Linked DNA regions of Homo sapiens. The protein of the gene in region 1 purifies or fractionates together with the protein of each later gene. This does not show direct contact. Each region holds a gene or a part of one and is shown in the gene's direction. Other genes may lie near its edges.

What was found.
Region 2: the proteins of TOP3B (region 1) and POLDIP3 purify together in Homo sapiens (affinity purification with mass spectrometry; 2 studies listed by BioGRID and IntAct, with this or other methods). This does not show direct contact.

The regions. Positions count from the first base shown.
Region 1 is NC_000022.11:21,972,746-21,988,564, reverse strand, and holds the start of TOP3B (DNA topoisomerase 3-beta-1), read left to right. Parts: upstream 1-5,777; 5' UTR 5,778-5,835; exon of another isoform or gene 5,836-6,151; intron 6,152-12,377; exon of another isoform or gene 12,378-12,584; intron 12,585-12,757; 5' UTR 12,758-12,855; coding exon 12,856-12,925; intron 12,926-14,076; coding exon 14,077-14,208; intron 14,209-15,819. UniProt on the Homo sapiens protein: Releases the supercoiling and torsional tension of DNA introduced during the DNA replication and transcription by transiently cleaving and rejoining one strand of the DNA duplex.
Region 2 is NC_000022.11:42,586,730-42,602,548, reverse strand, and holds part of POLDIP3 (polymerase delta-interacting protein 3), read left to right. Parts: intron 1-441; coding exon of another isoform or gene 442-492; coding exon 493-579; intron 580-2,755; coding exon 2,756-2,851; intron 2,852-6,183; coding exon 6,184-6,363; intron 6,364-6,934; coding exon 6,935-7,012; intron 7,013-10,464; coding exon 10,465-10,594; intron 10,595-14,976; coding exon 14,977-15,043; intron 15,044-15,819. UniProt on the Homo sapiens protein: Is involved in regulation of translation. Is preferentially associated with CBC-bound spliced mRNA-protein complexes during the pioneer round of mRNA translation. Contributes to enhanced translational efficiency of spliced over nonspliced mRNAs.

The DNA.
Region 1 (15,819 bases):
GAGAGTGGAAAAAGAAGGGAGGGAGGGAGAAAGCCAAACATTTCAGTAGGATTAGAGGAAAAGAATGGGTTGCCTGCTGTTGCCCTGTAGAAGCAGGACTGTGGTGGGTAGGGATCTCTGGGCCAGGGCCAGATCAACTGCTTTCCCAGATATTCCCTGCTTCCAAAGCATCCTCCTGCCTCGGCCTGCACCACACCCACTTCCACACACAAAGGCAGCATGTGCCAGCTCCCCAGAAACAACCGAGGAAGCAGGTGGCGCCTGCACCCCCAGAAACCACTCACGCCATCACTACAGAGACACTGTGCACCCTGCAGCATTAGGGGTGTTGCTTGTACTATTTGGCAAAGTCAGCTTGGAGCACAGAGAAAGTTATCTGAGTAATGGATACGTGTTTGGGTCTTTCAGTTAACCCCTGACTCTTGGTCACTGCAAACATGAAACCAACATGATTATCAAAGTAGTGGTGGCCAGCCCTTGACTGTTGACTGTCATACACTGTGCTGTGTGTTTGATATACATTTTCTGAGATAATTATCACAGATCACTAGAAAGTAAGGCCCAAGAGAGCAGACTTTTTTTCCGTTTCATTCACCATCGTATCCACAATGCCTGGAAATTAGTAGGTACCCAAAAAATACTGGATGAGTGTGAGAATAAAGGAAGATATGAGTGGACAGATGTTTTCCAACATGGCTATTGCGGCGAGCTCTCAGAGATGTTCCTTCTCTCATTTCCATCTATCTCATGGGCCTGTCTTGGGCTCCTGTGGCTTTGTACTAGCTGGTAACATTTTTATCTCCCCATTCTCTCCTCATCCTCCTTGACTTTTTTTTTAAGGCAAGGTCTCACTCTGTCATCCAGGCTGGAGTGCAGTGGTGCAATCATAGCTCACTGTAGCCTCAACCTCCTGGGAACAGGCCACCCTCTCGCTTCAGCCTCCTGAGTAGCATATGCCACCATGCCCAGCTAATCTTTTTTTTTTTTTTTTTTTTTTAGACAGGGTCTCACTATGTTAGGCTGGTCTCAAACTCCTGACCTCAAGTGATCCCCTCACCTTGGCCTCTGAAAGTGCTGGGATTCCAGGCATGAGCCATTATGCCTGGCCCAATATTCTTGTTTGTTTATTCTTCCACATGAAAGGCACATTCATTTAGTCATATCCCAAAATTACCACTACAAGAATTTCTTCTTAAAATAAGAAAATATTATAAAGAATTGAAATCAACACAATTCATCATTCCAACAGTAATCTGACTTGCCTTTTATGTCACTGGGCAAAATAAAATTTATTATGGATATCGGCTTCATGTTTGTCACTATGATATCCTTTGACATTTTAGGCGAGGCAGGGAGGTAGCTTCTCCTGTGTAAAGAGTTCACTTTTGCCACCATTTATTTACGTGGGTTTTTTGCTGGTGTTCACAGAATATGCTGGCACCTTCTGGTTGTTCTTCAGTTGTTTCTTTTGTGAAGAAAGGAGTATAAAGATATGGTGATGTCTGGCATGGTGGCTCACGCCTGTAATCCCAGCACTTTGGGAAGCCAAGGTGGGCGGATCACGAGGTCAGGAGTTTAAGACCAACCTGGCCAACATGGTGAAACCCCATGTCTACTAAAAATTTAAAAAATTAACTGGGCGTGGTGGCGCACACCTGTAGTCCCAGCTACTCAGGAGGCTGAGGTAGGAGAATTGCTTGAACCCGGGAGGGGAGGTTGCAGTGAGCCGAGGTCGCGCCATTGCATTCCAGCCTGGGTGACAGAGCGAGACTCCGTCTCAAAGAAAAAAAAAAGACATGTTGAGTTCAGGTCATAGGACAGGCTGCCAAGAGCTGTTTCTCCATGTACCCTGCAAATGACTTGGGCTTCTGTGACGTTTTAAGCTCCACCCACTTCTGGGGACAGCAGAGTGACAGAAGTCCCCCTCCCAGACAGGGGAGAAGGATGGCCTCAGCACACAGCCAGTCAATTTCCTGTTCTTCAGCGCAGGTTTCATTGCCCTTTTATTCAAACTTCAAAAAGTAATCTTGGCCAGGCGCGGTGGCTCACGCCTGTAATCCCAGCACTTTGGGAGGCCAAGGCAGGTGGATCACAAGGTCAAGAAATCAAGACCATCCTGGCCAACATGGTGAAACCCATCTCTACTAAAAATAAAAAAATATTTAAAAATTTAAAAAATTAGCTGGGCTTGGTGGTGTGTGCCTGTAGTCCCAGCTACTCGGGAGGCTGAGGCAGGAGGATCGCTTGAACCCAGGGGGTGGAGGTTGCAGTGAGCCAAGATCGTGTCACTGCACTCCAGCCTGGCGACAGAGCAAGACTCCTCTCAAAAAAAAAAAAGTAATCTTTAAGGCTGTGCACGGTAGCTCATGCCCATAAATCCCAGAACTTTGGGCAACAGAGTGAGACCCCGTCAAAAAAAAAAAAAGTGGCTTCTGGAACTAGGTTGCTCTGCCACTTCCATCATTGTGTCCTGCTGGTTCTTTTTTTTTTTTTTTTTTTTTTTTGAGATGGAGTTTTGCTTTTGTTGCCCAGGCTGGAATGCAATGGCATGATCTTGGCTCACTGCAACCTCCGCCTCCTGGGTTCAAGCGATTCTCCTGCCTCAGCCTCCCGAGTAGCTGGAACTACAGATGTGCGCCACCATGCCCACCTAATTTTTTGTAGTTTTAGTAGAGACGGGGTTTCTCCATGTTGGTCAGGCTGGTCTCTAACTCCCGACCTCAGGTGATCCGCCCGCCTCAGCCTCCCAAAGTGCTGGGATCACAGGCGTGAGCCACCGCGCCTGGCCTATGTGTCCTGCTTCTTTATGTGTAAAATAAGGATAATAATAATATCTAATTCCTAGTGTTGTAATGAGGATTGTGTCAGTAACAGAACAGTGCCTAGAACAGAGTAAGTAAGCACTGCATGATGTTAACTATTAATAGTATTATCAAAATCATGGACCAGCCTATGCCGAACCAGAGAGAAGAGAGGTCCAGGAGCCCTCAGTTATCCCATCCACCATAACCAGGCACCTGCCCAGTAAGTGAGGAGGGTAAGGAAGAGGAGAAAAGTCAAGACCATGGTGGAAACACCCCAGGGCTCTGCTTCCTGAAGTCCCATGGCGGTGTCTGGGCACCTGAGTTTCTCTCATGGCCTCTGCACACTCCTTAGAGGAGGCCTCTGCAGGCAAGTCTGCTGCTACTCTTTAGGGGAGTCAGTTTCTCCCCAGCCATGGGGAAAGAAGAACGGCCCCTCTCGCTGAGTCGATCCTAGGCCACCATCTCCCTGGTCAGAGTGGAGCTGGGGTTGGGGGGAGTCCCAATAGGGAGACACCTCCAAGTTGAAGGGTTCCTCTGAATCTGGGTCATTTGTCAACCTAAGGGTCAGTCAGAAAGCCTGACCCAAAGCTCTGGCAGAGGGTCAGCTGCAGGGCTCTCCGGGAAGAAAGCACAAGGCAACTGCAGTTTCTCTGCTCTGACCAAGAACACTTCCCGACGCCCTGGCCTTCAGAGCTGACCACTCAGCGCCTCCTGCTGGCCCAGGCCTCAGGTCCTTCCTAGGGCTCCATACAATGAACTCTGGAACTGGATTGATGGAATGAGCTGAGGGCCTCTGGGTTTCTCTTTCAGCCAACTGGTAGCACCCAACAGAGCCAATCTTAGCCCTGGCTGGTATGTGGAGAACACACTGCAGGGCGGCAAGGTGGAGACCTGGAGGGAGAGGAGGAGCTCGGATCAGGGTGGTGGCAGGGAGGCAGGGAGACTTGAGGGGATCTCCGATATACAGTCTTCGATTTAGGACAATTTCCACCTACAGGATTTTTCAACTACAAAACCAGTATGCATTCTGCACGCTTCTTGACTCATGATGGGGCTACATCTGGGTAAGCCCATAGTAAGTTGAAAATACCATAAGTCAAAAACGTACTTTCGAGTCACAATATTTTCAACTTAAGATGGGTTTATGTGGATGTAGTTCCATCTGAAGTTGAGGAGCATCTGTATTGTAAAGACAGTAATGGCAGGATTTGTGGGTGGTCCAGGATGCTCCCAGGCTCTGTCCCTGAGCAACCAGGAAGATGGAGTTGCCATTTTGGAGACGAAGAACCTACCAAGGTGTGGGTTTGGAATCAGGAGTTCTGCTTTGAAAGTGAAGTCTCACCGTGACTCATAATTTGTGACATTTCCAAACCTTAATTTGCCTATAGAACTTTTCTTTTTCCAGAGCCTCTATCCAGACTACTTATTATTTATCAAAATAAATTAGATAAATAAATAACTTAATTTTAGAATTCATCTTCCAGATATACTTTACACAGATCATTCCAATAAAGGCAGGTTGGGGCCCGGGACAGTGGCTCACCCCTGTAATCCCAGCACTTTGGGAGGCCGAGGCAGGAGGATCACTTGAGGCCAGGAGTTTGAGACCAATCTGGGCAACATAGTGAGACCCTCCCCCTAGACCCCATCTCTACCAAAAAAAAAAAAATTAATTGGCTGGGCTTGGTGGCTGGCACCTGTGGTCCCAGCTACTGGGGAGGCTGAGGTGAGAGCATCGCCTGACGCCAGGAGATCGAGGCTGCAGTGAGCTGTGATCTCGCTACTGCGCTCCAGCCTGGGTGACAGAGTGAAACCCTGTCTTTAAAAAAAAAAAAAAAAAAACAGCAGGTTGGGAAAATCTACAAGGAACAAGGGCAATGTGTGTATGTTATTTAAAATAAGATCATAAAACGTATTTTAAACCTTCCATAATCCTAATGCTCTAACAAATAAATTAGTTGGCCGAGCGTGAAGAGTCACACCTGTAATCCCAGCATTTTGGGAGGCCGAGGGAGGCGGACCACCTAAGGTCAGGAGTTCAAGACTAGCCTGGTTAACACGGTGAAACCCCCGTCTCTACTAAAAATATAGAAATCTTTGGGAGGCCAAGGCGGGCGGATCACGAGGTCAGGAGATCGAGACCATCCTGGCTAACACGGTGAAGCCCCGTCTCTACTAAAAAAATACAAAAAATTAGCCCGCGTGGTGGCAAGCGCCTATAGTCCCAGCTACTTGGGAGGCTGAGGCGAGATCATCGCTTGAACCCGGGAGGCGGAGGTTGCAGTGAGCCGAGATTGCGCCACTGCACTTCAGCCTGGGCAACAGAGTGAGACTCCGCCTCAAAAAAAAAAAAAAAAATATATATATATATGTATACACACACATATATATACATACACATATAAATTAGCTGGGCGTGGTGGCGCACGCCTGTAATCCCAGCTATTTAGGAGGCTGAGGCAGGCGAATTGCTTGAACCTGGGAGGCGGAGGTTTCAGTGAGCCGAGATCACACCACTGCACTCCAGCCTGGGCGACAAGAGTAAAACTCTGTCTCAAAATAAATAAATAAATAAATAAATAAATAACTTAATTTTAGAATTCATCTTCCAAATATATTTTACACAGATCATTCATTCATTCCACAGATTTTTTTACAGCATCGAAAAGAAGCCTGCTATACACACATCGGTACATTTTTATTATTTTAATTATTAACAGCATAAATGTTTTCATGCCAGTTTTCATAATCATTGTAATGATAATTGTCATGATTGTCTCTCCGTGGCGGGGAAGAATCTGGGTGCAGGGCTTGGGGATCCCTGCGGTCCGCGGCGTGCAAGTGCCACTCCCTGGGGTGCTCCCGGAATCCGCGAGCCACGGAACCTAAGAACGCCGACCCGCCGGAGCCGGAGGGCAGACGCTGGCACACCGGACGCGGGGACGCCAGAAGCGGCTGGACCCGGAAATAGGGGTTGTCGGTAGCCGCCCCGGGAACAAGGACCGGAGCTGGATCCGCGGTGCGGCTGTGGGTGAGCGGCGGGCTGCGGGACCCTCGCCCGGCGGCTCAGAAAGGCGGGAAGCGCACGCATTTTTCTGGCTTGTTTCCTGAACGTTGGCCGGCGGAGGACCCGCGAGCTCGGGAGAGCGCCCGGGCCGGGCTCTGCATTCTTGTTGCCTCTTCCCTGGCGGGGGTGATACTCTCCCGCGGGGCTTGCTGTGGGGGTTCAGGGAGGTGGAGATGGGCCCGCCATGTGCCTGCAGGGAGCAGGCGCTGTGGTTAATACTTTTCTTCTTCGAACCCTCCCACAGCTCTTTAGGGTGAGATCTGCTGTACCAGTCTCACAGGTAGGGAAACTGAGGCTCAGGGAAGCTGTGCAGCCACCGGGGCCCAGATCGGTGCGGTACACACCCAGGCAGCTTCCACTCGCCGCCCCCTAGGCCCTGGCTGGGTTTTGAGGGCACCCAGGTTCTCTGACCTGTTATCTGTAAATGAAGTAGGGTACTTTTGTGAACAAATTAGCTGGAATCCAGGGGCAATAATTTCTCGCAGAAGTGAAAGGTAAGATGTTCCTAGTCTTGCCTTTTTATCTTCTCACCTTTTGAAACAGGACCTGAGAGGCCAGCCTAACTTGGGCTTGATGGCCAGCCAGTCCTGGGATTCTTTTGCCAAGGTCACCTGACACTAGTGTGACTTGTTCTGAACCTCCATTTACTCACAGTTTTAAAAAATTACAACACCTGCCTTATGGGGTTGCTGGCGAGATTGAATAGTGTTGATAGCTATGGTGTGCCTACTACAAAGGAGGAGCTTAAGAAATGGTTGTTTCCCTCTTTTCCTGATTCTAGAAGCATTTGGTAAAGTTACTGAGGTGGTAAATCCTAGGAATTTTAATGCTATTCAGACCACTGCTAGGCCTACTCCCAGGCCACATCTGCTTGTTTCTTTTTTTGTTTGTTTTGTTGCAGGCAGAGTCTCACTCTGTCACCCAGGCTGGAGTGCAGTGGCGCGATCTCAGCTCACTGCAACCTCCGCCCCCGGGTTCAAGTGATTCTCCTGCCTCAGCCTCCTGAGTAGCTGGGATTACAGGCATGCGCCACCACGCCCAGCTAATTTTTGTATTTTTAGTAGAGACCAGGCTTCACCATGTTGGCCAGGCTGGTCTTGAACTGCTGACCTCGGGTGATCCACCTGCCTCAGCCTCGCAAAGTATTTGCTCACTGTCTATTTACCGTGAGAATGCACAAAGCAAAACCCGTGTTCTCCTGCTGCTTACTTACTTTCTAGGAGCTGTAAGACAAGAGCTGAATAAGTAGATGGAAGCTGTACCAAGTGTAGTGATGAGTGCTACAAGGAAGCAAAGCTGGGCTGCTGTTCCATCAGAGTGCTCACAGAGGCAGGACAGGATCAGGCTTGGGGCACGGGTTCTAGAACAACCAAGTCCAGCCACTGGAGCTCTGGTCTCTCTGACCCCACAGTCCCAGTCTAGGCCAATAAAATGGCAGCACCTATTAGCATCCCTGCCTAGGATGCTGGCAGGACTGCCTGGTCCCTGGTGTGTCCTCATTATGTCATACATAATTGCTGACTACTCTGTGGCATAGACATGAGAAAATCTGAGGAAACATTTTAGGACAAAATTTCCTACTTTGGAAGAGATGGGAAACTCAGACCCTCACAGAACAATGCCCCTCTGCTGCGAGTTTTCCCTTTTGGCCTCTGGCTTCCCAGGGTGAGAGAAGGGGAGTCCCTAAATCTCTTTTAAACCTCACTTCTGGGCCTCTGATTTTGGTAGAATCAAAACTTCCCCAGAACGGAGAGCAGAGGCCAGTCATAATCACCTTGGTTGTTCATTCATTCCCTCAGCAGGCATTTAGTGCATGCTGGGTGCCAGAAATATGGCAATGAACCTGACAATTGTGGGAGAGACAGACTGCTGACGCCAGATGCAGTCTTCAGGAGGGGAGGGGCAGGGGTCAGAGCAAGTAGACTAAGGGGGAAAAGTGGCCTAGGCCGAAGCCTGCTGGCGCACAGGGAGGAAAGGTGGGTGCGCAGCAGAGCCTTGGGAGATGCAGCTGGAGCTGTCATGGGCCAGAGAGCTCATCTGCAGACAGTGTCGTCATTCCACAAGGCCTCGGCTCTTTCACTGTGGGATGGTTGTACATTTAAGGGGAACATCCACTTACTTATTTTGAGGAAAAAAGCAAATTGTCATTTTATTTGGGACAGCTTTCTGGTCAAGATTACTGATTTCACTGTAGTCCTGTGATCTCTTAAGTGGGGAACAAGGTTGACAGCCCAAGGCCGACCTTGGACCTCTTCCCCTGCACAGCATGATGAGCAGCAGAAGCCCCTTTAGTGAGGGAGTTCCTTTGGCATCCTTTCTGAACAATGCCCTTTACAACCCTCCTTTATTTTTCTGGTTTTATTGTAAAGTCCCTTGTCTTAGTTCTTGTCCCTCAGTCACCTGTGTCCAGGCGCTAAATGTAAAAGGTGCAAAAGGGAATGTGGTGAGGAGGCACCCCCAGCCCTGACCTCCAGGCCCTAACACCCACTCCAGGTGATTGCTTGGACTGTTTGTTTTGCGTTCCATCCAGACATATCGCCTCTTCATAATCAAGTGCACACGTGTGCACACATATGTGTGATCACAGATGGCAGTGCTCTCTACACACCGTTACATGCCCAGCTTTCTTAGCATGATTTATTTCAGTGATCTGATCCACGTTAGTATGTACCAAGCAGATGCTTTCCTTTGTAATGCTGCCAGGTGCTCTACTGTAGAGAATGCCATGCTTTTTTTTTTTTTTTTTTTTTTTGGAGATGGAGTCTCACTCTGTCGCCCAGGCTGGAGTGCAGTGGCGCAATCTCGGCTCACTGCAAGCTCCGCTTCCCGGGTTCACACCATTCTCCTGCCTCAGCCTCCCGAGTAGCTGGGACTACAGGCGCCTGCCACCATGCCCAGCTAATTTTTAGTATTTTTAGTAGAGACGGGGTTTCACCACGTTAGTCAGGATGGTCTTGATCTCCTGACCTCGTGATCTGCCCACCTTGGCCTCCCAAAGTGCTGGGATTACAGGCGTGAGCCACCGCGCCCGGCCAGAGAATGCCATGCTTTTATTTAACCACCTCCCTGTTGACAGACACCAGCTTGTTTCTAACCTTTTATCATGATTGATAATGCTGCAGAGAACTCCCCAGTGATGTGGTTCATCACAGGCACCACCGTGCCCAGCCTGAGGCCACTCCAGCGCTGCCCTGTCCTACCTCCTGGGGACTCAGAGTCCACATGGACAGTCTTGTCAGGGCCCACCACTGACTCCTGTGAGTCTCCCCAGGTGACTTCACTCTCTACCTGTCTCACAGCCCTTGCCCTCCCTGGGTCAGCATGCCACCACCCAGGCCCCTCTGTAATTCCTGTTTGAGCCTCCCACCCTCTGGGAGTTGCTTCTTTGACTCCCACTTCCTGCTCTTGTGCCTCACTTCCTGGACCCCACAGAGCACACCCTCTGTGGACCCTCCCCAACCCTCACCTCCCTCTTCACCCAACTCAGAGTCAGGTTCTGTCCTTGTAATCTCTCCCCTCGAACCCTGACCCACTCCCTCTCCCTCCTACTCACCTGGACTCTCCCATCTAACTAAATCCAGTGCTTCCTCTGCTGTGGGCCTGCCCGCAGCATCACCACCTGTCCTCCCTCAGTGGACAGCCGTACCATGCCTCCTCCTCCACCAAGAGAAGTGCAGCCTTGTGGCAGCTCTGCATCGCCTGGATGCTGACCGGCTGCCTCTCTTGCCCCTCACCCTCCCAAGGCCATCACTGCAGCAGTTCCTTCCCCTCCGGCACGCAGCTTCTCTTTTCCTTCTCGCCAGAGCAGTCCCATCAGCGGAGAACATGCTGGCACAGCCACCATCCTGAAACAAGAGGGGACAGTGCACCAGCCTTCTCCCATCTCCCAGGTTTTGTTGAGCTCACCCCATGCAGCTTTCATCTGTCACTCACCACATGGCCCCATCAGGATTACCCAGGGCTCTGTTTGCCAGACCCTACAGTCAGGTCTCAGCTGCCATCTCGCCTGGCCTGTCAGTGTCCCCCACATGGTGATAACTGCCCTGAAGTGCTCTTTCCTGTGGCTTTCAGGACCTTACCCCTCCTGACTCACCCTGCTAGCTCCTCATCTCCCGACCCCCAGCCTGGGCTCCTTCCACATTGCTGCCACCTCCTCCAGGCCACCCAGGCTGTCCAATGGGCAGGTCCCGTTTAACACACCTGAAGTCCCACATCAGACTGCCAGTCCCTTCCTGTCATGCCTAAGCCAAAGCCATGGGTTGTTCCTTTTGCTTTTTTGTAAAGATGAGGTCTCATTGTGTTAATCAGGCTCTTCTCAAACTCCTGGCCTCAAGTGGTCCTCTTGCCTTCGCCTCCCAAAGCACTAGGATTATAGGTGTGAGCCCATGGCAGGTGTGAGCCCATGCCCAGCTCTGCCTCAGGTCATTCTTGACTCACCTTCCCCTCCCCCTCCCATGTCCCGCCATCCCAGGTCTGCCTGGATTCTGACTTCCCTCGCATCCTCCACCACTGCTACCCAGGGCCCATTCATCCTCTTCTATGTGGCAGCCAGAGAGGTCCCTTTAACACTTGAAGTCAGATTATCCCACACCTATGCAAACCCTCTGCTGCCTCCCAGCACCCCTAGAGCAGACCCACATTCTACACCCCTGCTCCCTCCCTCAGCCCCATGAGCCCCCCTGCCCAGCCATATCCTCCCCAAGGACCTCACCTTCCCTGCTCCTTCTGCCTGGACTCTTCTCCCAGGTGTCACCCAGCCCTGCCCTGTCCCTCCCCTGCTCCCATACTACAGCATGAGTTCTGGGAGGGCAGGACCTGGTGTTGCTTTGTGCTGTATTCCCTGCATCCTGGACTAGGCCAAGCATGCAGTAGGTACTCAATAAATAACTGGACTATTAAGTTCATTCCAAGGAGTGGAATTGCTGGGATGTGCACTCGGACTTTGAGAGGGATCCCTGAATTGCTGCACATAGAGGTTGTTCCCATTTAACTTCCCCATGCCCTCATCTGCTGTGTGTGCAACGACTTTGAGTCTCTCCCTATGTGATAAGCACAAGCTCATTGTAGTTCTGAGTTTCTTCTGCGAGTGTTGTTGGACATGATGTGATACCACAAAGGTACTTACGTGGTGGTTTTCCCTTTTTTTTTTTTTTTTTTTTTTGTTTGAGATGGAGTCTCACTCTGTTGTACAAGCTGGAGTGCAATAGCATGATCTCGGCTCACTGCAACCTCCACTTCCTGAGTTCGAGCGATTCTCATGCCTCAGCCTCCCAAGCAGCTGGGATTATAGGCACCCACCACCACACCCAGCTAATTTTTGTATTTTTATTAGAGATGGGGTTTTGCCATGTTGGCCAGGCTGGTCTTGAACTCCTGACCTCAAGTGGTCCACCCACCTCAGCCTCCCAAAGTGCTGGGATACAGGCGTGAGCCACTGTGCCCATCTAGGTGGTAGTTTTTCTTTATGCTGAGATTATTTTATTTTGCTTTTACTTTTTTTGAGACAGGGTCTTGCTGTCACCTAGGCTGGAGTGAAGTGGCTGTTCTATCCACAGGTGCAGTCATGGCACACAACAGCCTTGAATTCCTGGCCTCAAGCAAGCGATCCTCTTGCCTCAGCCTCCTGAGTGGCTGACACTATAGGCATGTGCTACCACACCTGGCTTGTGAGATTTATTTTAAAAGCACATGTTTTTCCTAATATTTTCTGGTTTCATTGTTTCTACTCAAACCTTTGCTAGATCTGGAATCGGTTTTAGTGGGATTTAGGAAGCAGGAGTCTAACTTTATTTTTTTTCACAGCAGATTTCCCAGTTGTCTCAATACGAGTCTTTTTTTTCTTTTTTAATACGGTGCTATGTTTATAAACATCAGTGCTACATTTATAATGACTGAAAAAACAAAAAGGGTTCATGTGGTTTTCTTTTACTTGGCTAGCAGGTATTGAATGTCATGTGTCAGGCACAGAAAGCTGTTGCAAAGACCAACAGTGATTCAGACACAAAGCCCATCGTGTCCTATTTTGGGGGTGAAGTAGTCGCTGATGATGGCATGATGTGAGTGGGTTGGAATGGAGACCTAGCCCAAGAGCTGTGGGCACAGGAGGGCTGACTTACCCTGCCAGTGGTGTTGGGAGACTTGAGCTGGGCCTGTGGGCCATCCAGCTGCATCCTCCAGGCCTGGCGGAGCTTTCTCTCAGGCAGGGAAGCGCAGGCACAGAGGCTTCAAGTGCGTGTTTGCTTCGATGATGATATTTGATTTAATTTGGCCAGAGCATGACCTGCAAAGCAAAAGGTGGAGTGGAATAGGTGGGAGATAGATGTGACAGAGTCCTGATGTCTGCTTGGGGCTGGACCGACTAGCCAGAGGGTCTCAGGCCCATCATGGATCAGAAGGACCTGGGGGGCCCAGCCTGGGCATCTGCATTTTGTAAAGTGTCCTGGGGCGTCCAAGTGCTTTGCTGAGCGGGAGGTGCTGCTCTCGGCCACGATAGTTCCTCTTTCCAGGTGAGTCCACCTGTAGGTGGAAGAGCCAGTCCAGAGAGGAGGGCCAGGCATCCACCTGGCCTGACCCATCACTCCAGATCCCCAGGCCCCAGCATCTTCCTAGCATGGATTTAGGAATAAAATTGACCTGAGATCACTGGGGCCACTTCACCTTCCCCCAAATGGAGCCACATTCCCAGGATCATCTCAGCCACTTCAGCTGACCTGGTAGTTTTTTCTTGTTTTTAATCTCAGATGTCTTCAAGTTTCCCTAATTCCCTAATTTTTCTTCTTCTTGCCTCAGGTTGGTCTTGTTTTTTCTTTGTTAAAGTGATTTTCCTTGTAGTGGTGTAGGTTCTATTGACAGCATTGCTATCCTGAGTGTCTTTTCTTCTCTTTAGGAGTCAGCATTGGTAATAGTGCTGTGCTGCGGAAGAGTGGAGTCTAAACTTTTTCATTGCCAGTGCCCCGAAACTGGAGTGTGAAGGACCGAGACAAAATGAAGACTGTGCTCATGGTTGCTGAAAAGCCGTCCTTGGCACAGTCAATTGCCAAAATCCTCTCTAGAGGTAGGAGAGACCAGCCCTGCTTTGGTCTGTAAGCACGGTCGTTTATGTGTTACAGGACATTTTTTCCTAATGTGATTCCACCCTGGCTGGGGTAGATTTGGTTCGGGTCGGCAGGTGGTAATGAAGCATCTCAGTATGTCACAGTGGGGTGCATTTGCTTCCACTCCTGGCAATGTGCCAAAGCTGGGGTTCCCATAAGGCACAAGGCACAATTTACAATGAAATTGAAGGACAGTCATTATCCATATGCTGGGCCTGGTGGGGCTATTAGGTACAGGTAGTAGAAACCAGCCCTGGAAGGAAGGAGACGCAGCCAGGACTACACCCCAGTCAAGGTCTGATGAGGCTATGCCCCAGGCATTGTCACCCCTGGATACTCCCACTGTCCTGTGGACCTCACGTCACTCCAGAGTAGCCAATGGACTGAGCTATGGCCACAGGCACTACTGAGACACCAGGGAGCTCGAGAGGGAATGTCTGCCACTCACCCCCAACTCTGGCCACTGGGGTGGTTGGTAGGGTGCTGTTTCCCCCTATCTTTGAATTCCCTCCAAATAGGAAGAGTTTTAGATGCTGGGTACCCAGAAATGACAGGCACCTACCTGGCCTCCCCTTGGTCCAGCAGTTGAGAGGGGAAGAGACCCTCGTTCAGCTGAGAAGGCATGGTCCGCAGGGGACGGTGCCCCAAAAGTGGTGCCCGGTGCCCAGAAGCTGAGAAAGTACAGCTGAGTATGGTCAGTGGAGAGGGTGAGAATTCGATAATTAGAAGGTCCCTGGTAACCGAGAGTAGATCTGGAGTCTGTTTTAGTAAACGATGAATAACGTTTCAATGAAGTGAGGCAAAAATGGAATTGAAGAGTGAAAACATAAATACAGAGAAAGAGCCCACCCCTGCCTGCTCCTGGCTCCCGGCAGCCTGGGGCTCTGCATCGAGAGTGCTCTGTGCTAGGTTGTTGGCAGATGCTGTTTTCCCTGAGCGCCGTCCCACCTCTCAGTGCCCAACTACCCGCACCAGTCTGCGGAATGTCGTCACTCACCACTCTGGGGAAGGAGGACTCTGGCCCTCTGGGAGGTGGCATCCGGGCTGGGGTCTCCACAGGGTCTTCAGCTCAGCTGAAGCAGCCAGTCACTTTGTGCTTCCTCATCCCCAGGGAGCCTGTCCTCACACAAAGGGCTGAACGGGGCCTGCTCAGTCCACGAGTACACTGGGACCTTTGCTGGCCAGCCAGTGCGCTTCAAGATGACGTCTGTCTGTGGTCACGTGATGACCCTGGATTTCCTGGGTAAGCCCCTCTACCCTCCATCCTACTGAAGGGAGTTCTGCATGGCACTGGCCAGGGTCCAGTTGAAGCCAGGAGATGCCTCTAGGCAGGGAAGTTTGTCCCAACTCCATGAGTCATAAGGCCAGCAGATCATGAAGTAGCAATGAGAGGGTCCCTGGTGCGGTGCCCAGAACCCAGGCTCTGGAACTCAGCCCTGGGTCCCCATCATAGCGGCACCCCTTAGTCGCTGCATTCCCTGTGTGCCTTCCTATGTAGACAAAGTGGCAGCACCTATCTTAGGAAGGGCTTGACCTGTGCAGGCATTTAAGAGAAGGCTGCTGCTGTTGCCAAGTTGACCGTCATCTGTCGGTCATTTGGTGGCTGTCGTTGTCATTCCTATATTGTTACTGTTATCAATTACCTTGGAAGCGCCAGTATTAGTGACCTGCTGGGTGTAGGTTTGGGGCCATGTGGTTGGCAAGAGTCTGATCCAGGCTTTTCCCCCTGCTCTGCCGGCTCACTGGCTGGGGATGTGGGCAATGACGGCCTCTGAGTTTACACTTCTCATAGTGAAATGGGTCTCACAGCAATGCCATCTGCTTCCCAAGGCTAAGGATTCAGTGTGACAGTGAGGGCAAAGCACTCAGCACAGGGCCCGACACACAGCAAAGCCTCAGCCCTTGTTCTTGCTGCTCATTGATGACAGTGATGACAATGATGGTGACTGAGTTGTGTGGCTGAGCATTTGGACCCCAAGTTTTATCTCCAACTGGCAGGTGGGGAGCCGGGATTTGAATTTGGCTCTGTCTGACCCCATTCTCCCAGGATGCAAGAAATGGGGCCTGGGGAGGATCGCTTGAGCCCAGGAGTTCAAGACTAGTCTGGACAACATAGTGAGACCCCTGTCTCTACAAAAAAAAAAAAAAACAAAATTCTTTTTAAATCAGCTGGCATGGTGGTGCGCACCTGTAGTCTTGGGAGGCTGAGGTGGGAAGATGGACTGAGGCTGGGAGGTCGAGACTGCAGTTAGCCGTGATCGTATCACTGTACTTCATCCTGGGTGATAGAGCGAGACCCCTGTCTCAGAAAAAAAAAGAAATGGGGCCTAAAAGAAAGCCAGACAGCTGAGCATGCAAGAACCGGGTCTCTGTAGATGAGTAGGTGAATGTGCTGGGCATGAGGCTCAAAAAGATGGTCCTTTAACAGGAACGACTGCACACATGTGTGCCCCCACAGAGTGCTGGGTGGAAGGACAAAGTTCCAGAAACTCAGGTTGGAAGTGTCAATGAAGGCACCATTGTGGGGTCCAGTGCTCAGGCAAAGAGACCCAGCCCAGGAATGGTGCTCCCAGCCACAGGGAAAGTCCCGGAAGTGAGGCCAGAGTGGCAGCCCCCCGAGAGCTTGCTTGGCTCCTGTGGTTGGCCGGGGTGTGGTGGGTCCGCTCAGCAGCCGAGCAGAAAGGAGGCTGGATGGGAGGGGGTTACCAAAGGCCTGAACCCACATCCTGGCTCTGCCTCTGATCATCAGGATGACCCTGGGCAAATTGTTCTCCAAGCTTTCCCCTCCTCATTTGTGGGATGAGGCCAACATCCTCCTGGGGTTATGATGGTCTCGGAGGCTGAGCTCCTGTGA
Region 2 (15,819 bases), about 21 Mb from region 1:
TAGAAATTTGGTGACTTTCCCAGGTGAGATACTGGTGGAAGAAAGAGAGAGGAAAGGACAAAAGATTTATTGAGCACATGCTATGTGGCAGGCCCTTAATATCTGTGACCTTACAGTCCTCACTCCACCCCCAGGCCCAGTGGGATTTGGCCCCTAGTCCAAGGCCCTGGCCACCCTTCACAGCTGCCACCACAGAGGGAAAGGAAACAATGTCATTTAACCTTCATAGCAGCTTTGGTAATAGGAACAGCAGCGGCCACAGCAAACATTTACTGAGCCAAGTCCATTAAGCCCTACATGTGCGTTACCGGCATGGTCTCTGGATTGATGATTCTTCTGTTACTTCCTACTGTGGAGGATAAGGCCCTCTGTAGTGCCTTTTACCAAAGACCAAAGCTGCATGCCCACCATGTATCAAGTTCAGTAACCCCCTTCTTCTAGAGAATGCATGTGGACCCTGTGGGGTGGATTCTGACCACTGAGTGTTTCCAGGTTCCACAGCAGAAAGCCATGGCACCACTTCATCCCCATCCTGCCGGAATGAGAATCAATGTTGTCAATAACCACCAGGCCAAACAGGTAGAGTGAGTGAGTGAGAGAGAGAGAGAGAATCTGTGTGTACATAGCGAACATGTAGGTGTGCACGTGTTTTGATGAGGCCTACTTGGGTGGATGGACTGAGGCTTGCTCAGTTGGTAGTTCCCAGTTGGTAGTATTGGAGGCAGGGTTACAGCGAACTTTTTGCAATTTGAGTTTAAAGAAGAAATTTTTTTTATTTTTTTATTTTTTGAGACGGAGTCTCGCTCTGTCGCTAGGCTGGAGTGCAGTGGCGTAATCTCGGCTCACTGCAACCTCTGCCTCCCGGGTTCAAGTGATTCTCCTGCCTCAGCCTCCTGAGTATCTGGGACTACAGGCGCGTACCACCACACCCAGCTAATTTTTGTATTTTTAGTAGAGATGGGGTTTCACCATGTTGGCTAGGATGGTCTCAATTTCTTGACCTTGTGATCCCCCCGCCTCAGCCTCCCAAAGTGCTGGGATTACAGGCGTGAGCCACCACACCCAGCCAAGAAGAAACTTCTTAATAGAGGAAGGGAGGCATAGGGGGCAGAGAGGCTAAAAAAAGTTTTGTTTGTTTTTTTTAATTTTTTTACGCTTTTTTTTTTTTTGTCTTTTGTTTTGTTTTTTTTTCCTTTTTCTGGAGAACGGGGTCTCGCTATATTGCCCAGGCAGGTCTCGAACTCCTGGGCTCAAGCTATCCTCCCGCCTCTTAGCCTCCCTGAGAGCTGGGATTACAGGTGTGAGCCACCGCGCCCGGCCTAATTTTTTTAAATAAAAGTTCTATGTGCTTAATATAGAAAACTTGCCAAAAAGTCCCTCAAGTTCCTATTCTCCAAAGCCAGTCACTGTTGAAATTTTGCCATAGTTCCTTACATGTACGCTTCTTTTTTTTTGATACAGGGTTTCACTCTGTCCCCCAGGCTGGAGTGCAGTGGTGCAGTCATGGCTCACTGCAGCCTTGAGTTTCTGGGCTCAAATGATCCTCCCACCTCAGCCTCCTGAGTAGCTGGGATCACAGGTGCATACCACCACATCTGGCTAATTTTTGTAGAGATGGAGTCTTGTCATGTTGCCCAGGCTGGTCTCGAACTCCTGGGTTCAATCGATCCTCCTGCCTCTGCCTCCCAAGTAGCTGGGATTACAAGCATGAGTCACCGCGCCTGGCTAATTTTGTATTTTTAGTAGAGACGGTGTTTCTCCATGTTGGTCAGGCTGATCTCGAACTCCTGACCTCAGGTAATTCGCCCACCTTGGCCTCCCAAAGTGCTGGGATTACAGGCGTGAGCCACTGTGCCCAGCCCCAGTCTGTTTTTTACTTAACTCATAGTTGTGGTTGTGGTTATATATTCTTTTTTTTTTTTTGAGACCGAGTCTCGCTCTGTCACTCAGACTGGAGTGCAGTGGCACGATCTCGGCTCACTGCAAGCTCCGCCTCCCGGGTTCACACCATTCTCCTGCCTCAGCCTCCCGAGTAGCTGGGACTACAGGCGCATGCCACCATGCCCGGCTCATTGTTTGTATTTTTCGTAGAGACGGGGTTTCACCATGTTAGCCAGGATGATCTCGATCTCCTGACCTCGTGATCCGCCCTCCTCGGCCTCCCAAAGTGCTGGGATGACAGGCTTGAGCCACTGAGCCCAGCCATGGTTATATTCTTATCCAATTTTGTATCATTCTTTTTTCACTTTGTAACTCAAGCATTTCTCTGTGACATTTCATATTTACTGTACATGTTTTAGTAACTGCAAAATCTATATAGTTGGCATTCCAGTTTTATTTAAACCATTTTCCTGTCATTTTCACTGTTAGAAATCCTTCTGCTGTGAACATCTTTGTAAATAAAGCTCTTTCTAGGGTTTGGATTTATTTCTGTAGGTCATATTAACAAGGATGGACTTTCCAAGCCAAAGGATATAAAGAAACATTTTAGGGACTCTTGGTACATACTGCCCACTGGGAAAAAGGGACTTCTGATGTATCTGGAAGTTGTAGGACTTTCACTGGGTCCTTGCTGACAGGGAGTTAGCCTGTGAAGACTTGGGCCCCAGTCTTTCCAGGCACCGTCACCCCTGTGCCCACTTCTCCTTGGTCCCTTTGTTTCTCCAGCAGCCATTTCCTTGCCATGCCTGTTCTAGATGTCTGTTGAGGGCCCAGATGCCACATTTGCTTATATTTCTTTATGTTATATTCTCAGAATTTATATGACCTGGATGAAGATGATGATGGTATAGCTTCCGTTCCTACTAAACAGATGAAGTTTGCAGCCTCAGGCGGCTTTCTCCACCACATGGTATGGCATTTCATGTTTTCTTACACTGCGTGTCTGATCAGGCAGGTGGGAGAGGTCGTGTTGAATAGAACCTGTTGTTTTTTTTGTTTTGAGACGACATCTCGCTCTTCTCCCCCAGGCTGCTGGAGTGCAATGGCGCAATCTTGGCTCACTGCAACCTCCGTCTCCTGGGTTCAAGCTATTATCCTGCCTCAGCCTCCCTAGTAGCTGGGATTACAGGCGCCTGCCGCCACGCCCAGCTAATTTTTGTATTTTTAGTAGAGATGAGGTTTCACCATGTTGGCCAGGCTGGTCTCAAACTCCTGACCTCAGGTGATCCGCACGCCTCGGCCTCCCAAGGTGCTGGGATTACAGGCGTAAGCCACTGCGCCCGGCGTGAATAGAGCCTTTCAATGCAGAAATATTTCTTTGTTTGGGCCGTAAGATTTTCAGAGCTGGAACTAGTCCATTCCCTTAGTTTTATAAACGCTGAGACACTGGGGTGCCTTCTGATTTGTTCAAGGTCCCACAGCAAGTGAAGTACAGGGCTGCAGCTCCTAGGTGCTGTGTTTGAGACACTATAGGGAAAGTGTGAGTGATCCCACAGTGGGGAGTCTGTGTTCTTTCCTTGGTGGCTGGCCATTCTGCATGCTTCGTAACCCTTTGTGGTCAGCAGCTCTGGCGCTGCTCTTGGAGTCTGGATTCCGTTGGTTAACATTAGCAGGAATACATCTCACCTGATCTGTGGGCTCTACCAGGTGCAGCCTGCATGCAGGGAAAGCTTGCTAGGCTAGAGTGTTGGTCAGACATCATGCAGAGAAGGAAAGAAAACAACATCTGGGATCATCAGGGAGGTCCATGCTGCTCAGCTCAGTGGTACAGCCAAGTGTCAGACAGGGAGGCCAGTGGGCTGCCTAGGTGGGTCCTTGTGGCAGCCACCTCTTTTGTTTTTCCTTCAGACGCTCAAAGACTCAGTTTTGGTTACTGTCCTGAGTATGTGGACCAGCCTCCTGGTTAGTAATTAAGAGAAATATGGGCCAGGTGCGGTGGCTCACGCCTGTAATCTCAACACTTTGGGAGGCAGAGGCGGGCAGATCACAAGGTCAGGAGATGGAAACCATCCTGGCTAGCACGGTGAAACCACGTCTCTACTAAAAAATACAAAAAAGTTCGGGCGTGGTGGCTCACGCCTGTAATCCCAGCACTTTCGGAGGCCGAGGTGGGTGGATCACGAAGTCAGGAGATCGAGACCATCCTGGCAAACATGGTGAAACCCCGTCTCTACTAAAAATACCAAAAAATTAGCCAGGCGTGGTGGTGTGCGCCTGTAGTCCCAGCTACTCTAGAGGCTGAGGCAGGAGAATGGCACGAACCCAGGAGGTGGAGCTTGCAGTGAGCCAAGAGGCGCCACTGCACTCCAGCCTGGGCGACAGAGCGAGACTCTGTCTCAAAAAAAAAAAAAAAAAAAATATCCGGGGTGTGGTGGCGGGCACCTGCAGTCCCAGCTACTCGGGAGGCTGAGGCAGGAGAATGGTGTGAACCTGGGAGGCAGAGCTTACAGTGAGCCGAGATTGTGCCACTGCACTCCAGCCTGGGCGACAGAGTGAGACTCTGTCTCAAAAAAAAAAGAAACATGAAGCTGGCTCGGCGTGGTGGCTCACGCCTGTAATCCCAGCACTTTGGGAGGCTGAGGTGGGCAGATTACCTGAGGTCAGGAGTTGGAGACCAGCTTGGCAACATGGTGAAATCCCGTCTCTACTAAAAATAAAAAATTAGCTGGGCATGATGGCGCGTGCCTGTAATCCCAGCTGCTCGGGAGGCTGAGGCAGGAGAATTGTTTGAACCCCGAGGTGGAGGTTGCAGTGAGCCAAGATTGCGCCACTGCACTCCAGCCTGGGTGACAGGGCGAGACTCCGTCTCAAAAAAAAAAAAAAAAAAGAGGTCGTGAAGCTGAATGATGCCAGTTTGTTTCTTTACAAAGGGACCAGGCCTTTCCAGTAATTAGACTGCTCAAGTCTGCTATCAAGGGAACTATCAGCTTGCTCAGTGAGTCTCTATCCCTATTTGATACCCTAATTGAATAAATGCCATATTTATACTCATGCGTCTTGTACCCTGTGAGATGGGTACTGTTGATTACCCTCGTTGATGGATGAGGGACAGGCATGGAGAGGTGAAATAAGCCTGTTCAACATCACCCAGCTGATGAGAAGCAGTGGATCTAGGAATGGAGCCCGAGCAGTCTCGCTCTCAGGGCCCTGTGTGGAGTCACTGTGCTGTCCCAGCTCTGGAGACGCAGAATTCCACATGAGGAATGTGGAATTCAGCATGGGGATGACGCTGCTTCACCCAGACTTGGAGGAGCGTGGTGAATTGCCCGTGCCCATGCTCTGATGTGCCTCTCTGGCCGCTGCGTTCCTCCTTTCTCCCTGCCCTGGGTCAGTGCCTGTAAACACTGCCCTAAATCAGCAGGGCCCCCGTCACTTCTGCTTTATGCACCTTTTTCCTCAGACACATTAATACAGGGGAGTTTTGTTTCCAAGGGACCACATCCAGATGGAGGGGCTGTTTTTGGTGATCTGCACTGCCAAATGCCCGAGTGTCCCTGACAGTCGGAGCTGATGAGGCCAAGGCTGTGTGTGGTTCCTCTGGATGGCCAGAAGAGGAACCAAAACACTGAATTCTGGGCCTTCTTAAGAGTGGTGATCAGCACATTGTGATAGAAGCATATCTGGGAATGAACTTGGCCTCAAGCTTTTGGCCTTTTAATTTTTTTTTTTGTAAGCAAAAGCAGCTTTATTAAGAAAACAAAGGAATAAAAGAATGGCTACTCCACAGGCAGAGCAGCTCTTTTACATTTTTTATAGAGATGAGGTCTCACTGTGTTGCCCAGGTTGGTCTTGAACTCCTGGCCTCAAGCAGTCCTCTCACCTCAGCCTCCCAAAGTGCTGGGATGGCAGATGTGATCCACTATGCCTGGCCAAGCTTTTGGCCTTCTGACCAGCCTCATATTGTAGAATTTTTAGAAAGTCTAAGTGGTGTGGGTGAGCCTGTGGCTCCTGGGTAATTTTCCAGGTCAGGGCTGTATGGAAGCTTCCTGCCAAGAGCTTCTAGCACTGTGGGGAGTGGCTTCTGTGAGTGCGCGTTCAGGCTGTGTGTTTTTCTCTCCCCCTGCCCCTTCCCTATGGGATGTCACTGGCAGCCGGCAGCCTTTTTGGCTCCAGACCTCTAATAGAATTAGAGAGCTGGGAGGCATCGAGGGTTCATGCTCTCAGCAAGTTGTCAACCTCTTGGGGCTTCTTCAGAACATTGCAGGTCTGGCTTCTCAGATTCTTTTCTGTCTCTTCGTTTAGGCTGGGCTAAGCAGTTCCAAGCTTTCCATGTCCAAGGCCCTCCCTCTCACCAAAGTGGTTCAGAATGATGCATACACAGCTCCTGCTCTCCCTTCCTCTATTCGAACAAAAGCCTTGACCAACATGTCCCGGACACTGGTGAACAAGGAAGAACCCCCCAAAGAGCTGCCAGCTGCTGAGGTGAGGTGATGGTGGTGACTGCAGCAGTTGGGGTCAGGAGGGCTGTATGCTTATATGTACCTCATTGTGTTCCCCACAACGCCTTTGTGAGGTGGGCATTGCCACCCCCATTCTACAGATGAGCAAACCAAGACCTAGGGACTCTTACCCTCAAAGACCTTGCAGGCTAGTGGGGACGGCAGACCTGCTGAGAGATTGCGGTATCTGGTGATATGTTAGACTCTCTCAGAAGAAAGCTATTAGGAGGGCTGAGGACAGATTATCTCATTCCAGTTGGGAAGTCTGGGAAAAAGGGCTCTTTTAGCTGAGTGGGTCTGGAAGCATGAGTAGCCTTCCAGGTAGAGGCTCAGGGCCTGAGAGGCTTGCGTATTTGGGAGATGGGAGAGGGTCCATGCTTTTAGCATAGAGTGATGGGGGGTGTAGTGGACACTGAAGTTCAGGGGGCCCATTTGTGGTAACTCTCCATGGAGCTTTCCTCTGGGCCTTCCTAGTCACGTGCCTGGAGGAATTTCTGTTGTGGGAATGCTTATCAGCCATCTGGCTTCTGGTAATGCTCTTGTCTGTGTGGCAGCCTGTTCTCAGCCCATTGGAAGGCACCAAGATGACTGTGAATAATCTGCACCCTCGAGTCACTGAGGAGGACATTGTTGTAAGTACTGTGACCTACCAAACATTTAAATCTCAAACTGCCTCTGTGGCAAAGGTCTCTTAAGACCCACCCTCAGGTTTGATGACTGCTAGGACTCACCAGACTCAGCATATAGTCACGCTCAGGGCTGAGACTAATGACAGCAAAAGGATGCAGAGCAAATGGCTCATGGGGTGAAGTCGGGGGGAAACGAGGCACAAGCCTCCAGAGGCCCCTCCCAGCAGAGTCGCACAGGATGCTGGGTGCAACTCGCAGCAAGTTGTGACAATACATGTGACACCAGGGAAGCTCATTAAAGACTCAGTACCCAAAGGTTTTACTGGGGGCTGGTCACTTCGGCATTCTCTGTGTAGCATGTACTAAAATTCCAGACTCCCAGAGGGAAAGCAGCTGTTGAGCAGAAACCATGTTGTTTGCACAGTCCAGGCACAGTGAACTGTGGGGTGGCAGGAGCCCTCCTGAGATCCGAGTTCTCAGATGCCAGCCAAGGGCCACCCCTGGAATCGGACCTTTCAAACAATAGCAGTCAGCCCAGCTGCTTCACTCTTCTGCACAGCTTCTAGCCAAGGCCAGGTGCCTGGCCTGAATCTCAGAGTCAGGGGATATCTATGCTATAATGGGTCCTAAATGGGATCCTTTAGTCCCACTGGGCAGTATCCAATAGTTGTGTTTTCCTGTGTCCTTTGGAGGTATTACAAGATGATTCCAAAGTGAAAGAAGTGAGATGGATTGGTGGTATCCACCTTCCTGGTCCATCCCGTCCCACCCATGGCAGTCATGGGCAAAACCTGTCAAATGTCTGTGAGCGGGGTTCTGGATGCAGCTAGGACTTCTTTTCAACATCATTTTCATTCAGGCACCCAAAAGAGCCATTAGTTTAGAAATCCAGGCATCCTTTGAACTGTCAGATCACAAAATGAATACGTTTGGAGAATCCAGCCTCTCCCTGCAGTTAAGTCCCAGACTAACAGACTGCACTGGTCACTACATTTGTTAAATCTTTTTGTTTTGTTTTGTTTTGTTTTTGAGATGGAGTCTCACTCTGTCACCCAAGCTAGAGTGTAATGGTGTGATCTCGGTTCACTGCAACCTCTGCCTCCCAGGCTCTAGCAATTCTCCTGCCTCAGCCTCCCGAGTAGCTGGGATTAGAGGCGCCTGCCACTACGCCTGGCTAATTTTTGTATTTTCAGTAGAGGCAGGGTTTCACCATGTTGGCCAGGCTGGTCTCGAACTCGTGACCTCAAATGATCCACCCACCTCGATTTGTTTTTTTTAAAGATGGAGTCTTGCTCTGTCGCCCAGGCTGGAGTGCCAGTAGTGCGATCTTGGCTCACTGCAACTTCCGCCTCCTGGGTTCAAGTGATTCTTATGCCTCAGCCTCCCTGGTAGCTGGGATTATAGGCGTGTGCCACCACACCCGGCTAATTTTTGTATTTTTCAGTAGAGACGAGGTTTCACCATGTTGGCCGTGTTGGTCTTGAACTCCTGACCTCATGATCTGCCTGTCTTGGCCTCCCAAAGTGCTGGTATTACAGGTGTGAGCCACTGTGCCCAGCTGAGGTTAAATCTTAATTGTGAAACACACGCATGCCGTGAGATGGGTCACTCGTATCTCCTTCTCCTTTAGCAGGGACAGTACTGTGAATGGTGCACGTGAGGATGGAAATTGTAGCCTATTTTGTGTAATACTTGACAAGTCATTAAGAATTAAAGCTGATTGCCGGGTGCAGTGGCTCACGCCTGTAATCCCAGCACTTTGGGAGGCCAAGGTTGGTGGATCACCTGAGGTCAGGAGTTCGAGACCAGCCTGGCCAACATGGCAAAACCCTGTCTCTACTAAAAACAGAAAAATTCGCCAGGCGTGGTGGCACGTGCCTGTAGTCCCAGCTACTCAGGAGGCTAAGGCAGGAGAATCACTTAGAACCTGGGAGGTGAAAGTTGCAGTGAGCCGAGGTCACGCCATTGCACTCCAGCCTGGGTGACAGAGTGAGACTCTCTCAAAAAAAGAAAAGAATTAAAGCTGTTAAGGAGCGTAATAACAACTGCCATTTACTGAGTACTTGCTATGTGCCAGTCACTTTAGGCAGACTCTTGGAAGATACATAATGGTGGAAAACTAAACACCAGTCATGATCAGTGCTCAGGGGAAATTGCTAGTAATAATCACCCTCGCTTCTCTTCTACCCAAATAGGCAATGTTAAAAGGACAATGGTAATAAAATTGGAATTACACCTACTATTTATAGTTGGCCCTCCATATCTGTCGGTTCTGCATCTGTGGATTTAGCCAACCACTGAATGAAAATACTCAAATTTTTAAAAATAACAGTATGATGAGAAATAATACAAATTTTAGAAATACAGTATAACTATTTATATAGCATTTACATTGTATTTGGTATTATAAGTAATCTAGAGATGATTTAAAGTATAGTGGATGATGTGCATAGGTTATGTGTAAATACTACAGCATTTTATAGCAGGGACTTGAGCATCTACAGATTTTAGTATCTGCGAGCGGTTCTGGAACCAGTCTCCTGCAGGTGCAGAGGGGCATCTTGTTTTGATATTTACCATTAAAAACAAACCATGTCAAGGACCTTTTCATAAACCTTCTTTTGGCCCTCACAGCAACCTTGTGAAGGCAGTTGCAGGTGAAGAAATGGCGTGAGTGCTAGTCAGCCTCTGTCCATCTTCACATTTTGCTCCCTCTCTGGCCTTAGTCGTCTTGTCTGTAAAATGAGGTGGAGATCGGACTCAATGATGTGTGCAAAGCACTGCCTTAAAAATTATCTCAGTTGAGCTTTCCAGTAAAGCTGGGAAGTAAGCTAGTCCTTTTTATTTTCAGAGGAGGAAACAGGCTCAGAGAAGTTAAGTAATTTGCTAGACGTCTCATAGCAGATAGAAAGCAGAGCCTGGGGGATCAAACTCAGGTCTGACTTAGAGTGACCAACTGTCCCTGTTTTGCTGGGGACTCTCCTGGTTTCATCACTCAAAGTCTCATGTCCAGGGAAACCCTTCAGTCCAGCCAAACCAGGACTCTGGGTAGAACTCCAGAATTTGTATTTGTAACAGATTCTCAGGTGACATATTAGCAGCTGTCTTTCTTTGTATACATGTATTCTAATGACAGGGCTCTTTGCGAAAATTTTCATAACTGTTTTATCCCTGTTGAGGTGGGCACTGAAGACTTTGGTGGTGGCTTGCTGGGAGATCCCAGGTGATCCAAGGCTTGTAAACCCAGCCCCTTTCCCACTGCTGACCTCATCTGGTGCTGTGTTGAAGCCTGTGGATGTCTCCAGAGCACCACCTCGCGTGGAGCCTCCCCGCAGTCTCAGGCGCAGGGCGCATTTAGCTGCAGCGGAACCACCACACCCCAGGGCCTTCAGAGTGTGTGAGCGGCAGGTGCTGAGAAATCCTTCCCCAATCCCAACCCCTCTTGTTGTGTGCAGGAGCTTTTCTGTGTGTGTGGGGCCCTCAAGCGAGCTCGACTGGTCCATCCTGGGGTAGCGGAGGTGGTGTTTGTGAAAAAGGACGATGCCATCACCGCATATAAGAAGTACAACAACCGGTGTCTGGACGGTAAGTTAGGGAGAAAGCAGTCCCCTGACCCTCCCACTCATCTCTACTTGCTGTCAGGTAGCAGGCCTTCCAGGGGAAGTCTCTGTGAGATGGGTGGAACCCATCTCTGGGGCCTCGTCTGCACCAGGAACTGCCGTGCAGTCTCTGAGTAGTCCTGAGCTGTGGGTTACACAGGGCCCTGGATTTTCACCCAGCCCTTAAGCTTTTGAGCCCAGCAAAAAGGAAAACAGCATTTCTCCATGGATGGTTCTCTTAAGGGGTCTTGCCAGGGGAGCCAAGAGGCACAGCTGTTGCCTCCCAGATGTTGATCTGTTTAGTGCTAGGGCAGAAGTTCCTCCCAGCCCTGGAGTTTTGTCTGAATGTTGACACCTGGGTGAGAGCTGCTCCTGGTGGGTAAACAACAGACTTTATTGACTTGAGGTTCATATTTTTCATCTCCAGACAGCCTGTAGAGAAGAATTCTGTCTGCCATGCTCCTTTTCCACTCATTTGTTCTTTCAGTATGTATTGAGTGCCTACTGTGGACCAAGGCCCTGTGCTAGAAGTGGAGAAGCAGAGACTAATAAAACAATACAACAATAAAAAAAATTACAAATAAAAGACCTGGAGCCTTGGCTAAATCTTGGCACCTGGGTGAACTCCCCTGGGTGAGTCAGTGGAGTTCTGATTTGCATTTCCCCATGGCTAATGATGTTGAGCACCTTTTCATGTGCTTATTGGCCATTTGTATGTCATTAAAGAAATTAATTTTGTTTTGAATTTCTGTTCTTTTTTTGTTTTTTCTTATTTTTTGTCATATGTTTGGATGTGGAAAGATACTTATTTTCCTTTTTCTTTCTTTTTTTTATTTTTATTTTTTATTATTTTTTTATTTTTTTATTTTTTTTGAGTTTCTCTCTGTTGCCCAGGCTGGGGTGCAGTGGCGTGATCTCAGCTCACTGCAACCTCCGCCTCCCCGGTTCAAGCGGCTTTCCTGCCTCAGCCTCCCAAGTAGCTGGGACTACAGGTGCACGCCACCAAGCCCAGCTAATTTTTTTGTATTTTTAGTAGAGATAGGGTTTCACCATGTTGGCCGGGCTGGTCTCAAACTCCTGACCTCAGGTGATCTGCCCACCTCGGCCTCTCAAAAGTGCTAGGATTATAGGCATGAGCCACTGTGCCCAGCTATCTTTGGAGAAATGCCTGTACAGAATCTTTGTCTGCTTTTTAAATACTGAGTTGTAGAAGTACTTTACATATTCTTAAGTCCCTTATCAGATAAGTGATTTACCAATATTTTCTCCCATTCTGTAGGTTTATTTCTGCTTTTTAATGTATTCATATGCAGTATAAGGACTTTTTGGTTAACAGCAGACCACATATATGACAGTGGGCCCATAACATTATAATACCATATTTTTACTGTATTTTTTCTACGTTTAGATGTACAAATACAGTTGCCTACTCTACTCAGTAGAGTAACATGCTGTACAGCCGGGTGTGGTGGCTGAAGCCTGTAATTCCAGCACTTTGGGAGGCTGAGGCAGGAGGATCGCTTGAGCCTAGAAACTTGAGACCAACCTGTGCAACGTGGCAAGACCCTGTCTCAAAAAATAAATTAGCTGGGCGCGTGGTGGCGTGTGCCTGTAGTCCCAGATGCTGGGGAGGCTGAGGTGGGAGGATCACTTGAGCCTGGGAAGTTGAGGCTGTAGTGAGCTGTGATCGTGCCACTGCACTCTGGAATGTATTCCCATGGTTAAATGATACATGACTGTATGTGCATTTACAGCTATATATTCTAAGCATGGCTGTAACTGCATTCCGTGTTTTGGTATATCATGCCTTCATTTTCATTCATCTTGAATTATTTTCTAATCTCCCTTGTGATTTCTCCTTTGACCCATTGGTTATTTAGGATTGTTTCAATTTCCATATATTCATGAATTTTCCAGATTTTCTTTTCTTCTATGAGTGTTTAAGGAAAATATGTATTTTCTTGTTGTTAGGTGGAATGTTCTGTACATGTCTATTATGTCTTGTTGCTTTGTAATGTTTAAGTGCGTTTCATTGTTGATCTGCTTGGTTCTATCTAGTATTGAAAGTGAAATACTGAGGTTCTGTTTTTTTTTTTTGATACGGAGTCTCCCTCTGTCACCCAGGCTGGAGTGCAGTGGCATGATCTCAGCTCACTGCAACCTCTGCCTCCCGGGTTCAAGCAATTCTCCTGCCTCAGCCTCCCAAGTAGCTGGGATTACAGGTGCCCACTGTCACGCCCAGCTAATATTTGTATTTTTCGTAGAGATGGGGTTTCACTGTGTCAGCCAGGATGGTCTTGATTTCCTGACCTCATGTTGGCCAGGCTGGTTTTGAAGTCCTGACCTCAAGTGATCCGTCCACCTGGGCTTCCCAAAGTGCTGGGATTAGAGGTGTGAGCCACTGCACCCGGCGAGATCTTTATTACTGTTGGTCTGTTCCTTTCACTTCTGTGTATTTTTATTTTATATATTTGAGGTTCTGTTGTTACTTGCATATATGTTTGATTGTTTTCTTCCTGATGAATTGACCCTTCAGTCAAATTTAAATCTCTCTTTACCTCTAGTCACTTTTTTTGTTGTTTTAAAGTATATTTCATTTTATATTACTAATAGCTAATAAGCTAATAAGTAAAAGACCAGCTTTCTTAGGGTTGCTATTTGAGTGATATATCTTTGTTCACTTTTTTTTTTTTTTTTTGAGACGGAGTCTCGCTCTGTCGCCCAGGCTGGAATGCAGTGGCATGATCTTGGCTCACTGCAACGTCTTCCTCCCAGGTTCAAGCGATTTTTGTGCCTCAGCCTCCTGAGTGGCTGAGACTACAGGTGTGCACCACCACACTCAGCTAATTTTTAGTATTTTTAGTAGAAATGGGGTTTCTGCCATGTTGGCCAGGCTGCTGTCAAACTCCTGGCTTCAAGTGATCTGCCCATCTCAGCCTTGCAAAGTGCTGGGATTACAGGCATGAGCCACCAAGCCTGGCCCACTCTTACTTTCAATCTTTTTCTCTCATCAACTGTAAAAATGTGTTTCCTAGGCTGGGCACAATGGCTCACTCCTGTAATCCGCCAGGCGGATCACCTGATTGGGAGTTCGAGACCAGCTTGACCAATATGAGGAAACCCCATCTCTACTAAAAATACAAAATTAGCCAGGTGTGGTGGTACATGCCTGTAATCCCAGTTACTCCGGAGGCTGAGGCAGGATAATCGCTTGAACCCAGGAGGCGGAGGTTGCCGTGAGCCGAGATCGCACCATTGCCCTCCAGCCTGGGCAATAAGAGCGAAACTCCATCTCAAAAAAAAAAAAAAAGAAAGAAAGAAAAATGTGTCACCTATAGAGAGTGTATAGTTAGATCTTACTGGTTTTTTTTTTATTTGAATTCAATCTGACAATCTGTCTTTGGATTGGATTATTTAATCCATTCATATTTAATATTGATAATTAGGTTTATTTCTTCCATTTTACTTTTTTTTTTTTTTTTTTGAGGTGGAGTCTCGCTCTGTTGCCCAGGCTGGAGTGCAGTGGCATGTGGTCTCTGCTCACTGCAAGCTCTACCTCCCAGGTTCACGCCATTCTCCTGCTTCAGCCTCCTGAGTAGCTGGGACTACAGGCGCCCGCCACCACACCCAGCTAATTTTTTGTATTTTTAGCAGGGACGGGGTTTCACCATGTTAGCCAGGATGGTCTCGATCTCCTGACTTCGTGATCCACCCGCCTCAGCCTCTCAAAGTGCTGGGATTACAGGCGTGAGCCACCGCGCCCGGCCCCATTTTACTTTTTTGTTCCTCTTCAGTGGCTTTTCTTTCACATTTTTTCCCCAATATTTTAATTCCTTTAATGATGTATTCACTAACTTAACTCGAGTAAGATATGGAAATGTTACTCCCACATGGCCCTGTTCCTTCTTCCTCTTTTTTGTGCTATTACCGTTACACATGTTATGCTTTGTATACAGTGGGAGTGTGGTCTTCCTAGTGCTTCATCCTTTGTAGACAGAGTAGAAGCCTGTACATAATGCTTTTGATCATCTTTTCACTGAATTTGATAGCATAAACCTTTTCCCTTACTACTTGGATGGCTTCACATTGAGTCTCGTTTCTCCCTCACTTCCCACTCATCTCTTCCTGTATGAAGCAAGGTTTGTGGCCACTTTGCCTCTTGGTGCTCCACTGCTGAGGTTTCCTCACGCCCTGGGATTTTCTTAGTGTCTGGCTTGACTGGAACCTAGCAGCCCCATCTCCATCTGTGGAGCCAGAACTGCCAGTGGTGGGTGCTTTGACCATTGATAATGGAGGTACAGCCCTTGTCCTCTTGTGTGAGGAGCCGAGGTCTCATAGCAGAGCCTTTTTCTTTCTTTGGTTTTTCAGGGCAGCCGATGAAGTGCAACCTTCACATGAATGGGAATGTTATCACCTCAGACCAGCCCATCCTGCTGTGAGTTCCAAAGGCGGGGTGCTGGGGAGAGGCAGCTCCGTCCATCTCTTTTTGTTCTAATGGGTAAACTGCCTGCATCACAGCTCCCCTTCATCCCCCCATTCCGTTTCCTCTGTTCTAATGGCAGCTGGCCGTTTCATATGCTTAAACTTGACCAAAATGGTTTGCTTTGTTATTTCCCCAGGGCTTGACCCTATAGGGACTAGCATTATGATCTCGTTCTCAGCTTTCTGATTTAGAAATATCTGAGTGGAAGTTGGAGGGGGAGGCTGCTTGGGTCTCCTAGCTGTGTGCATCATCCCGGGAACAGAGAACTCCACTGCATGATTGGCTCTGATGGAGACAGTGCCAGATGCTACCCCTTATTTTGTTCCCCAGTGAGGTTTTTTGTTTGTTTGTTTGTTTGTTTGTTTTTTGCTTTTTCAGTTATTTTGAGAGTCTCACTGTGTTGCCCAGGTTGGTTTCAAACTCCTGGGGTCAAGCAACCCTCTCCCCTCAGCCTCCTGAGGACCTGGGACTATAGGCGCACACCATCACGCCCAGCTGGATTTGGCTTTTAAGTACAGTGGGAAGCCATTGAAGGCTTTTGTTGCACACAGCTGAGTATACATGCCTGGCCCAGGACTGAGGGATGTTTTGAAGCCTGAGATGCATAAAATGTTGAGACTGTGAGGACTTCACCTTCTAGATAAGGAAGCAGATACCAGGGAGGAGGTTAGACTTGCCAGGGTGAGTGGGATAGTGTGGGGCAGGGCTGAAATAGACTTTGAGATTTA